3 linked regions of the Homo sapiens genome follow. The protein of the gene in region 1 interacts with the protein of each later gene in a pairwise test. Each region holds a gene or a part of one and is shown on either strand. Other genes may lie near its edges.

What was found.
Region 2: the proteins of KCNF1 (region 1) and CLPTM1L interact in binary tests that used the Homo sapiens proteins (3 or more experiments, as listed by UniProt).
Region 3: the proteins of KCNF1 (region 1) and KCNH1 interact in a two-hybrid assay, tested with the Homo sapiens proteins (one study listed by BioGRID).

What each region holds. Positions count from the first base shown.
Region 1 is NC_000002.12:10,909,701-10,913,448, reverse strand, and holds the start of KCNF1 (voltage-gated potassium channel regulatory subunit KCNF1), read right to left. Parts: upstream 1,516-3,748; 5' UTR 1,023-1,515; coding exon 1-1,022. UniProt on the Homo sapiens protein: Regulatory alpha-subunit of the voltage-gated potassium (Kv) channel which, when coassembled with KCNB1 or KCNB2, can modulate their expression and their gating kinetics by acting on deactivation upon repolarization and inactivation during maintained depolarization.
Region 2 is NC_000005.10:1,338,363-1,342,110, forward strand, and holds part of CLPTM1L (lipid scramblase CLPTM1L), read right to left. Parts: intron 3,499-3,748; coding exon 3,309-3,498; intron 818-3,308; exon of another isoform or gene 784-817; intron 644-783; coding exon 498-643; intron 1-497. UniProt on the Homo sapiens protein: Scramblase that mediates the translocation of glucosaminylphosphatidylinositol (alpha-D-GlcN-(1-6)-(1,2-diacyl-sn-glycero-3-phospho)-1D-myo-inositol, GlcN-PI) across the endoplasmic reticulum (ER) membrane, from the cytosolic leaflet to the luminal leaflet of the ER membrane, where it participates in the biosynthesis of glycosylphosphatidylinositol (GPI).
Region 3 is NC_000001.11:211,127,499-211,131,246, forward strand, and holds part of KCNH1 (voltage-gated delayed rectifier potassium channel KCNH1), read right to left. Parts: intron 1-3,748. UniProt on the Homo sapiens protein: Pore-forming (alpha) subunit of a voltage-gated delayed rectifier potassium channel that mediates outward-rectifying potassium currents which, on depolarization, reaches a steady-state level and do not inactivate.

The sequences.
Region 1 (3,748 bases):
AGGGCAGAGAAGACGAAGATACCCACTGCCAGGTACATGAGCAGCAGCCCCAGTTCCTTGAAGCTGCGCTTGAGGGCATAGGTGAGGGTCTGCAGGCCCGAGGAGTGGCGGGCCAGCTTGAAGATGCGCGCGATGCGCATGATCCGCAGCGCCTGCACGGCCTGCTGCACGTTGGTCAGCTCCATCATGCGGGCACCCAGGTGCGTGAGCGTGAGGCTCACGTAGAAGGGGAGGATGGCCAGCACGTCCACAATGTTCATGAAGGACAGCGCGAAGTGCAGCTTGTTGGGTGACGAGAAGAGGCGCAGCAGGTACTCCAGGGTGAACCAGCCAATGCACGCCGTCTCCACGTTCTCCAGCGTCGGGTGCTCCACGCGGTTGCCCTCGGCGTCCAGCACCTGCAGCTCGGGGATGGTGCCCATGCACATGACCACGGACGAGACGAGGATGAGCAGGAAGGAGAGCACGGCCACCACCCGCGCCGGGCACGACGACTCGGGCTTCTCCAGGAACTTCCAGACGCACTTCTGGCAGCGGCGCCAGCGGCCCTCGGCTGCGTCCACGCCCAGGTCGTCCAGGATGAGCTGCACGCGGCGCGCGATCTCCTCCAGCTCCTCGCGCTTCTCGCTCAGGTGGCTCTTGCAACAGTCGTCCAGGAACTTGAGGTCCACCTTCCAGAAGTCCATCTCGTTCTTGAAGCAGATGGGGCAGATGCCCTTCTTCATGTGGACCTCCCCGAAATAGTACACCTCGATGACACACTTGAAGGCGTCCGGGTCCCTGTCAAAGTAGAACTCGCGCTTGCCGGGGTCGTAGTCGTCGCACAGGGAGAAGATGGTGTCGTAGCCCCCAGCCAAGCAGTTGATGAGCTCCGCCAGCCGGGTCTCAGGGTACTGACTGAGGAGGTCCCCGTACAGCACCTGCCGCACGCCCCCCACGTTGACGACTATCTCTATGTCGTCGCTGGCAGCGGAGCTCTGGCTGCCCGGCTCCGGGAGGCTGCGCTCCCCGGACCCGTCCATCCTCCCCGCGCGCGCCCTCGCAGCCTCCGCCCCGCGCCCCCTGCAGCCGCCGCCGCCGCTGCCGCTGGGGGTCCGGCGGGTGCCACCCGTGCGCTGATCTCGGGGAGAGCCTGGCCGGCGCCCGCCTGCGGGGAAGGGCGGTCACAGCGGGCAGCAGCCTGCGGGGGCGCGCCGCGGGGGAGGCATGCACCCGGCGGCGGGGCTCGGGGCTGGCATCCGGGCGCCCGGGCGAGCCCGCGGGGGCTTTGGCGGCCGCCGGCCTCGCCCGGGGCACTCACCCCGGCTGGCTGGCGGCGCGCTCCGCCGCTTCAGCTCGGCCTCCTGCGGGAGCGGGGTCTCCTCGTGGGCGGCTGGCACCGTCCTCCGCCCCGGGGCGCGCAGGCAGCGGCGGCAGGTCCCGGAGCTGGCGGACCCACGCCGTCCGCGAGGTGCTCGAGGTGTGCAGAGAGCGAACTTGGGCTGGCTTTGCCCGAGCCTTTTCTAAACACAATAGGAATTCCAGCCTGACGTCAGGAGCTTTTCAAACTGTACCCTCTTCTGGTGAAATTCTGCAAGGCACGCGCGGCAGCTGCAGGGGACGGATTAACCCTTGGGCAGACGGGCACAGCTGCCGCGCCCGCCGCCACCACCGCGCACCGCCGGCCCCTCCTCGGGCGCAGCGGGTCACCGAGGGGTTGCGACCTGGCTTGAAGCGGCAGGCATTCTCTCTCACTGCTGTTTGGAGAGGATTAGTGGGGAGAGAATGCTGCCGCCTGTTGCTGGGCAGGAAAATGTGCTCCAGGAAGCCCCTTAGAAGGTGACTCCTATGTCTGGGTCCCTCCTCCGGCCTTAGACCCGCGCCGGCTTTTCCTGGTGGGAGGAAAATCCTGCCTGATCCTTGAAGCGTTTCCTGCCCCATCCCCCCGACCCAGCAATGCCCTGCTGTGTTGGTGGCACTGTCTCACCTTCCCCGCAACGCTGTACAAGGAGGACATCTAGTCCAGCCTCCTGTAGAAGGGAAGGGACTTGCCCAAGGTCACGCGGCGGAATGAGAGCAGAGCTCAGCTTGACCGCCTCCTGATCCCGAGCTTTCCGGCTGTCCCAGCTGACCGACGCCTGCTGTTCAGCAGATTTCAATTCTGCCTTGAAGTCCCTGCCGTCTGGCACCTCCTATCTCTCTGCAGTCCCACACCAAGGCCACTAGCTTCCAGACCCCTAGGGTCCAGTGGCTCCTGCTTCCCCGTTCCTCACTCCTTGACCAAGGCCTGTCTCTTCCTGACCAGTGTCCCACACCCTCCTCTCTTCCAGCCTTTGCAGCCACAGCTGTCCTTCTGTCCTCACTCACCTGAACCACTACAGCAGCTTCCTAACAGTGTCTCTCTCCTCCGGTTCACCACTATCATCAATACTGCAAATTACTGATATCATCTATGGCCTCGAGATCGTGTTAAAAATATTCTGGAGGGAAGAATGAATAGGCAGAGCAGAGGATTTTTAGGGCAGTGAAACGTACCATAATGGCGGATATGTGTCGTTATGCAATGGTCAAAATCCATAGAATGTTCACCACCAGGAGCGAATGTTAATGCAAACTCGGTGCTGGGCGATGATGACGTGTCCATGTGGGGTGGTCCACCATGACAAGTGTCCCACCCTGTGTGAGATGTTGATGCGCAGGGGAGAGCTGTGGAGACAGGGGGCATGTGGGAATTCTCTGTACTTTCTGTTGAATTGTGCTCTAAAATATAAAGTCTATTTAAAAATGTATTCTGTAGGCTGGGTTTTTTAAAACTTAAGGACATGTCCGTTAATGGATTATGAAATCAATTTACTGGGTCACTGACAGTATTCTTTTTTCTTTAATGAGTTAGCATAAAACAGAATATATTAGAATACATCACATGAAGTATTATTTAGTGAAACTTCGTTTTACAAATTTTACTTCATTTCCATTTAGCATCAGACAATGACATGCTACTACAGAGTAGGAAATCGAGGCTCAGAAAGGTTGAGTAATAATAAGAGTTGCCACTTATTCTCCATGGGCATCGGAGTGCAGTCTCTGAGTGCTTTGCATTTTTGTCATTTAATTTCCCAGCAACCCCTAAGGAAACAAGATGTCAGGTAACCTGCCGAGATCACTCTGTGGAGCTGGGATTTAACCATTGTCCTGCTGGGTTCTGAGGCCTATTCTTCTCCCCAGTACAGTGCTACACACCACCTCCTACACACACCCCAGCTTCCTCTTCCAATCCTTATGCATGCTACTCCCCTTATCAGCTGTCCGAGTACCTGCAGGGTTAAGTTCAAATTGCATCCTAGTCTGAGCTTAATGGGCTTCTAAATACCCATTCATTCACTCAGTTATTCAAATATTTATCGAGCTCTTATGGCACATGTGTGCAAATGCACACACACACACATACACACACCACCCTAGGTGTGGGGACAGGGTTCATATTCTAGTAGATAATATGTTTTTTGTAAATAATAATTAACAGTTTGGGGTAATGACCTTAACAAGAGGGGTATATGTATTATACAAGAGTGGTGCTTCCTGAATTTCTCCACAGGGGGCGCTGAGGGGCGGCCATCTGGTTGGAAGAGGGAGGGGCTGCATTTGCCTAGAAGCCCAGCCTTCACTCACTCAGGTTTGCATCGGGGTGTCTGATGAATCTCCCTCAGCAGATAGAGCCCCAATAGCTACTCCTTTGTATCGTCATGAAATACAAGGTGCTGTGGAACCC
Region 2 (3,748 bases), on another chromosome or scaffold:
GAGTCACCTGCAGCCACCTGGGAGGCGGAGCTGTGGCGCAGGAGTTGGGGGGGGGATCCCCAACACATGGGAGAGACGAGGTGAGCTCAGGTGGCCAAACACGTGAATTCCAATAATTGTATTTAACTGATGGCAAGTGATACTAAATAATCTAAAGATTAACTTTTAAGTAAATCTAAATAAGCCAAGTTAAAAAATCACAAGGGGAGCAAAGCAACCCGTTCCCATCAGCGCCTTCCGTTTTCTCTCCATGGAAGCCTTCGCCAGCCAGGAGCAAAGGGCAGGATGCTCCAGCTTGAATTCCTTTCTCCCCCCTTCCAGCCCTGTGGTAGCAGCACAACCTCAATGAGGAAGTGGGAAAGAGCTGGGAGGCCCGGGCAGCAAGTGCCTCCCCACAGAGGGGACTCCACGGTGCAGGAGTGACCTGCTGGCGAGTTCTGGCCAGCCAGGGTCCCAGCACCCTCCCCCCGGCGCTCCAGCTCTGGGGCCCCACTTACATCTTCATGTACCGATGCACATCGGCAGGCAGGGAGGACCCGTCAAAGACAAAGTTGTCCGCCATCACGTTCAGCGCCAGCCGCGGTCGCCAGTGGGACACTGGCTCATCCAGGGCACTCGTCGGCTTCTTCTCCGCCTCGATCTGCTGTTAAGTGAGGAAAACAGAGGCCAATGCTGGGACAGAAAACCATGCCCAGGACAGCAGGGTCAGCCCCCTAACCTGCGAACAGAACGGCCACACAGACAGGCAAACTGTGCCCGGGACAGCAGGGTCAGCCCCCTAACCTGTGAAGAGATGGCCACACAGACGGGCAAACTGTGCCCGGGACAGCAGGGTCAGCACCCTAACCTGTGAAGAGAACGGCCACACAGACGGGCAAACTGTGCCCGGGACAGCAGGGTCAGTGCCCTAACCTGTGAACAGATGGCCACACAGACTGGCAAACTGTGCCCGGGACAGCAGGGTCAGCGCCCTAACCTGTGAACAGATGGCCACGCACATGGAAAAACCGCACCCGGACAGCAGGGTCAGCACCCTAACCTGTGAAGAGAACGGCCACACAGACGGGCAAACTGTGCCCGGGACAGCAGGGTCAGCGCCCTAACCTGTGAACAGATGGCCACACAGACGGGCAAACTGTGCCCGGGACAGCAGGGTCAGCGCCCTAACCTGTGAACAGATGGCCACGCACATGGAAAAACCGCGCCCGGACAGCAGGGTCGGCACCCTAACCTGTGAAGAGAACGGCCACACAGACGGGCAAACTGTGCTCGGGACAGCAGGGTCAGCGCCCTAACCTGTGAACAGATGGCCACACAGATGGGCAAACTGTGCCCGGGACAGCAGAGTCAGCGCCCTAACCTGTGAACAGATGGCCACGCACATGGAAAAACCGCGCCCGGACAGCAGGGTCAGCACCCTAACCTGTGAAGAGAACGGCCACACAGACGGGCAAACTGTGCTCGGGACAGCAGGGTCAGCGCCCTAACCTGTGAACAGATGGCCACACAGACGGGCAAACTGTGCCCGGGACAGCAGGGTCAGCGCCCTAACCTGTGAACAGATGGCCACGCACATGGAAAAACCGCGCCCGGACAGCAGGGTCGGCACCCTAACCTGTGAACAGATGGCCACGCACAGGCACAACCGGGGGAGAGCCCAGCAGAGAGGGCACAGCGGCCCCACAGCTGCCAATTCCGCCAGACTCTCGCCAAACAGCCCCCCATCCTTATCTCCACGGAAGCCAGGGGGTGCTGCTTTGCAACATGTGGTCACGGACTTCACCAATTCCTTTTTTGAGGTCCTCAAACTAAGTGGGCCCACTTCTCAGAAGTTGAGAGGGTGAGAGCCCCCTGACCTTGGCAGAAGACTGTGCAAGTCCAGGGCTCACACAGCCCTGTGGCTGTAAGGAGACTGAGAGGGAGTCAGCTTCTAAAACCAAGCATGTGGGGCTGCCTAAAGGAGACATACTGAGGATTACACACGGCTCTTACATGAAGTTAAACAGGACATGGACTGACAGGGAAATCTTAGCTCGGCTCAGATCTGATACATCCTAGGAAGCACTATCGCCTCACCCATTTCCTACCTAAAGATGCAGTTTAGCGATAATTTACATTACAAACGGTTTTCCACACCTCCTCACATTTGCTACCTGCAAGGGAGGCTTCCTGCGCTACATGCTACATGCCCATCACCCCACCCACTTTTCAGGACACTGGAGAGGAGGGATGGGGGCCCCAGATGAGGGGACACGGAGAGGGGCAGGTGAGGGATGTTCCTAAGGAGACAGATGCAAACTGGGGAGAGGCAGGAGCAGGTGTTGGTAGGGCTTTCAAAACCCCATCAACTCCGAGAGACCTCTCTTTCTCTCTGTCTGGAACAATTTCACAGCCTCTTCCTGGAAAGCTGCCATCTTTCTTGTTTTGTAAATTTTTCTGAGGCAGAGTCTCCCTCTGTCGCCCAGGCTGGAATGCAGTGGCATCATCTCACCTCACGGGTTCAAACGATTCTCCTCCCTCAGCCTCCTGAGTAGCTGGGATTACAGGCGCGTGCCACCACATCCAGCTAATTTTTGTATTTTTAGTAGAGACGGGGTTTCACCATGTTGGCCAGGCTAGTCTCGAACTCCTGACTGCAGGTGATCCACCTGCCTCAGCCTCCCAAAGTGCTGGGATTACAGGCATGAGCCACTGCGCCCGGCCTTGTTTTGTAAATTATCTCACCTTCCACTCAACACAAAGGTGGGTGTCAGAATTCCCTTGCTTTATCCTTGGCCTGTATTCATGATCACTTAAGTGACTTCCAGTTTTTATTTGCGCATACACCTTTCTACAGATGTACAAACTACAACTTGTACCTCTACCTTTTCCATGATCTCCAATTACATTCTTAGAATAAACATCTAGGAATAGCCCAGTCCTACACAGAATGCAGAATGAGCCCAGCTCTCATCCCCAGAGCTCCTGGTGAGAAGCTGCAGGCCAGCTCTGCAGGACCAGCGCTCCATCCCACCAGGTGCAGTAGGTGCCCCCAGAGACTGAGAGGGCCCATTCCCCGAGGGACTCTGCATCGAGAATGCCAGCGATCACTTCAACTGTCCCTAATTTTAGATAAAACTTGTCTGCAAACTCATGGATATGATTCAGCTGAAAGTCAGAAATGCACGCCAGTAACATTCCAATGGCTTTTGGCTTTACTCCCAACAAAGTCACTGGAGCCCTAGACATCGCCCACCTGTGTGGAGAAAGACATGTCCGTTCTGACGGAGAGGCACAGCCTGTTATCAGTAACCCATGAAGACCCTCACCTGTGTATCAGACTCCCCGGTGAGCAGGTTGATTTCTTCTGGCTTGGGGACCATGTAGGTGGTCAGAGGACTGACCAGGTGCACCTGCTTCCCGTCGTGCCACGGCAGGACCCCAGCGTGATGGAGGAAGATGTAGGCATACAGCGTCCCATTGTTTCTCGTTTTCTTTGGTACAGAAACATTAACTGTCCTGAAACAGAACAATCATTTCCACTACATACATATTATATTCTGGGTCTCTAGAACCTATTCAAATACCTTTATAAAGCTGCTTCAATAAACTAATTTTAGCTCAGAAGTACTAAAAATGAAACCCACCTGCCCAGGGCTTTACGAGTCGTGTGTGTGTGTGTGTGTGTGTGTGTGTGTGCACGCGCACGCGTGCGCGTCCTGAGAACTCGGCACAGGTGTGGGCGCCTACAGCCGAAAGCAAAACGGCC
Region 3 (3,748 bases), on another chromosome or scaffold:
TCGCATCATTTACAATCGTGTGTGAGGGAGCTCCTCAGAGAGAATACTTCAACCCACAGTGGATACTGATGCCTCCCAAAGGGCAAGAGCAAGTTTTGTTTTCATTTAATTTTGGTCATGTGCTCCTATTAACATAACTCTCAATGACCCTGTTTTATTAGGTACTAGATTGTTTGGGCAACATCACTACTAAAGACAAAAGAAGAAAATACCAAATGCTGGCAAGGATGTGCTGCAGTGATAGAAACGCTCACACACGGCTGGTGGGAGTGTATATTAATATAAAACCTTTGGAAAACTGTTTGACAGCATCTACCACAGTTAAACATGTGCATCCTAGGTATACACCCAAGAGAAATGTGTGCCCACATGCTCCAAAAGACATACTAAAAATGTTTGTAGCAGCATTAATAGCACAAAACTGGAAACAATCCATCAGTGGCAGATCGGACACAATGTGTGGTACAGTCATACTATAAAGCACGATGCAGCAGTGAAAATGCATCAACAGGCCAGGCGTGGTGGCTCGTGCCTGTAATCTCAACACTTTGGAAGGCCAAGGCGGGCGGATCACAAGGTCAGGAGTTCAAGACCAGCCTGACCAACATGGTGAAACCCTGTATCTACTAAAAATACAAAAATTAGCCAGGCATGGTGGTGCACACCTGTAATCCCAGCTACTCAGGAGGCTGAGGCAGGAGAATTGCTTGAACCCGGGAGGCGGAGGTTGCAGTGAGCCGAGATCGCGCCACTGCACTCCAGCGACAAAGTGAGATTCTGTCTCAAAAAAAAAAAAAAAAAAGAAAGAGGTAAAGAAAATGAAGCAGTACATGCAACAACATAGAGGAATTGCCACCCGACAAAAGAATATATGCTATATGATCTCATGCATATAAAGCTCCAAAACAGATAAAAATAAACAGTAGTATTTATTAACTATAGTGGGTTTTTTTAGGAATGCAAAACAAACTGGTAAAATTATGAGGAAAAGCAAGAAAGTGATCACCATAAAATCAGGAGATGTCACCCTTTAGGAGGAGAGTGAGGGACTTAGGATCAGGAAGGCTTTGGGGGCTTCTAGAGGTCTGGCAAGACTCTATTTCTTGACACAGGTGGCGATGGCATACAGTATCACTTTATAGAAATATGTTAAGCTGTACAAAATTGTTTTGTGTGCTTTTCTATTTGTCGTACTGAACAATTAAAAAGGTTAAAAGGGGAGAAGAATACAATGCAAAACTTATCAAAAGTTTTTTAAAGGTTTGCAGCTGGAAAAAACAATGGGCTAAGTCAGTTTTGTTCCACGGAGCAGACTGCAAATAAGTGGTAGCTATAAGAAGACAGATTTTGGTAAGACCAAATGACAGCAACAAAGGGAGGAGGAAGAGGCAGAGAGAAGAGAAGAAGAGAAAAACAAGGAAAGGCGGCAAAAGAAACACAATTATACTTGCTTACAAATAGAATATTCCTCACGAGAAAGTGAGGGTCCCATCACTGAAGCTAGTCAAACACAGGCTGGAGAACCATCAGGAGGGAGGTTCTGGAGAGGATTCAGTGGAACAGTGGAAAATGAATTGTATAGCATGTCCCCCCAGAACTAAGATTCTGTGATTCTATTTCTCTTTCTCAACAGTTACAGGTGTGGCCACTTAGAGAAACAGAAAAAATAAAAAACAAGAAAAGTATGGTCCAAATATCCTAAGTGTATAAAGCAGATACTCTAGTAGATTTTAAAATGTTTGTTTACAAGCCATTAACTAATCAAAAATAAAGGGAAGGGAAGAATTGAAGAGCTTCAAGGTAATGCTCAAGGAACCACTCCCAAATGAGGTCCAACCATATATGCAGAGCTGGCATCGGAAACAATGAAGCCAAGGATTCAGTTGACCCACAGTGTTCCTCAAACACATCTATTCTTTTAAGATAGATTACTAAAATAAATGGGTTGCATAAAAGTCATGGAATTTGGAAGCTTTATTTCCTTAACATTAAATGACAAGGCTTCAGCTTCTCAATCCCCCATCTAACATCAGCCAACAGATTTAACTTTTTGACACTTTCAGAGAAAGATAGCTGAGCCTTGGCTGAAGATTGTCTTAGAATATTTTACAAGAAAAAACAAGCTCTGCTGAGCTGGTAATAATCCAGATTATCATCCATTCCCCCTTGTAGAGGCACAATGGATTTTAACCAGTTTTCTGTTTTATAAATATTACCATGGCTCAAAACACCCATGAGGAGACACAACATTACTCGTGGTTCTCATCCTGTTTGCTAACTAATTATATCAACAACCTGAACCAACTTAACACTATACAAAAACACAGCTGATTTAGCAATCTGTAAATTATACATGTACATAAATCTGTACCAAAATGTGCTGTGTTTCACTCCTGCTAATGTGCATGGATTTTTACTGGCACCTACAATTGTTTGATATAGGTTCCCGAACACTAAAACATATGTTCTGCCCAGAATGGGACCATTTAGAGTAATATTTTTGTAGTTTCCTGGCACCAAGGTCTGCCAGCCTTTCTAAGACAGATCTCCTATTTGCTTCAGCAAACATTCTGACAACAAGTGCCTGCAGATTTAAGCAACTATCAAAAAATATTCTGTAACAACAGTTTCCAACCATGAATATAAAGAGAAACAGGCTGGTTTTGCCTATGTGGCAACAAAGCCAGTAGGATTTAAAATGATCACTGACATGACCATAAGCAAAATCAAATAAAATATGGAGTATTAATTATTTCTGCTGCCTACTTACGGCAATTTAAAGAACAGATAATTATCAAATCTTTCCTTAAATGGGATTCAAAATGTACCAAAGAAAGTTAAAAGTCGGTTTTAGTACCAGCAAGACCAGTAAACACCTTAGAAATGTTTTTTAAATACAGTGACAGGCCTAAACAGTCGCAGCCGGTCAACACTGTAAAATAGGGGCAAGAACCTTGGACCAAGATTCACTAGAATGTAATTTACTAATCACAAGGAGGGTTTCTTGTTTACCACTGTATCCTCAGTGTTCCATAAATACATTCAATAAATCTTTGTTGAATGAATAAACCAAAAACAACTGCTGGCTAGTCCCTGATCTGTCTCTAATTGCCTTTTCCTAATTCTGCCTCTTACGAATTGTAGGTAAATCACTTAACCTGAGGATTCTTAGGTGAGTTTTAGTTTAAGGATTTTAGTTCCTTAAACTCTAAAATGGAGAGACTGCACCTCCTCTACTAGCTTATGAGGATCAAAGGTGATACTCTGTGAAAAGTGACTTGGTACTTTATAATGGGGCACACAGATGTTAAGTGCCCATTATCCCCGCCTTTGCCTTCAGCTAAACCACTGACAAAGGTGAACAGACTGCATTTCCTTGAAATATAATTAGCCTTTCCTTTGCCCTATTATTCTGTTGAGATGTGGTAGTGTGGCTGTTAGCCAAGATGGATGTTGTTCTTGTTGTTATAACATTTTATTTAATCTCCACTGGGAAATTATGCTTCTTGAGAGAATATAATGGTAACATGAGGAAAGGGTTTTTGCATGGTGTACCATAAAGAATCTGACATTGGACTCAAATGGTTTGGGGCCTCATTAGTTCTGCCCTTAAATATTTGAGGAAAGCCTCTTGCATCAATTTCCTTATTTATACAATGATGGGGAAGGAGAGGCAGACTAGATAATATTTAAGGTCTGTCTCTTCCCACAGCTCTATGATATTCCGGGCATCAGATATTCAAATAAC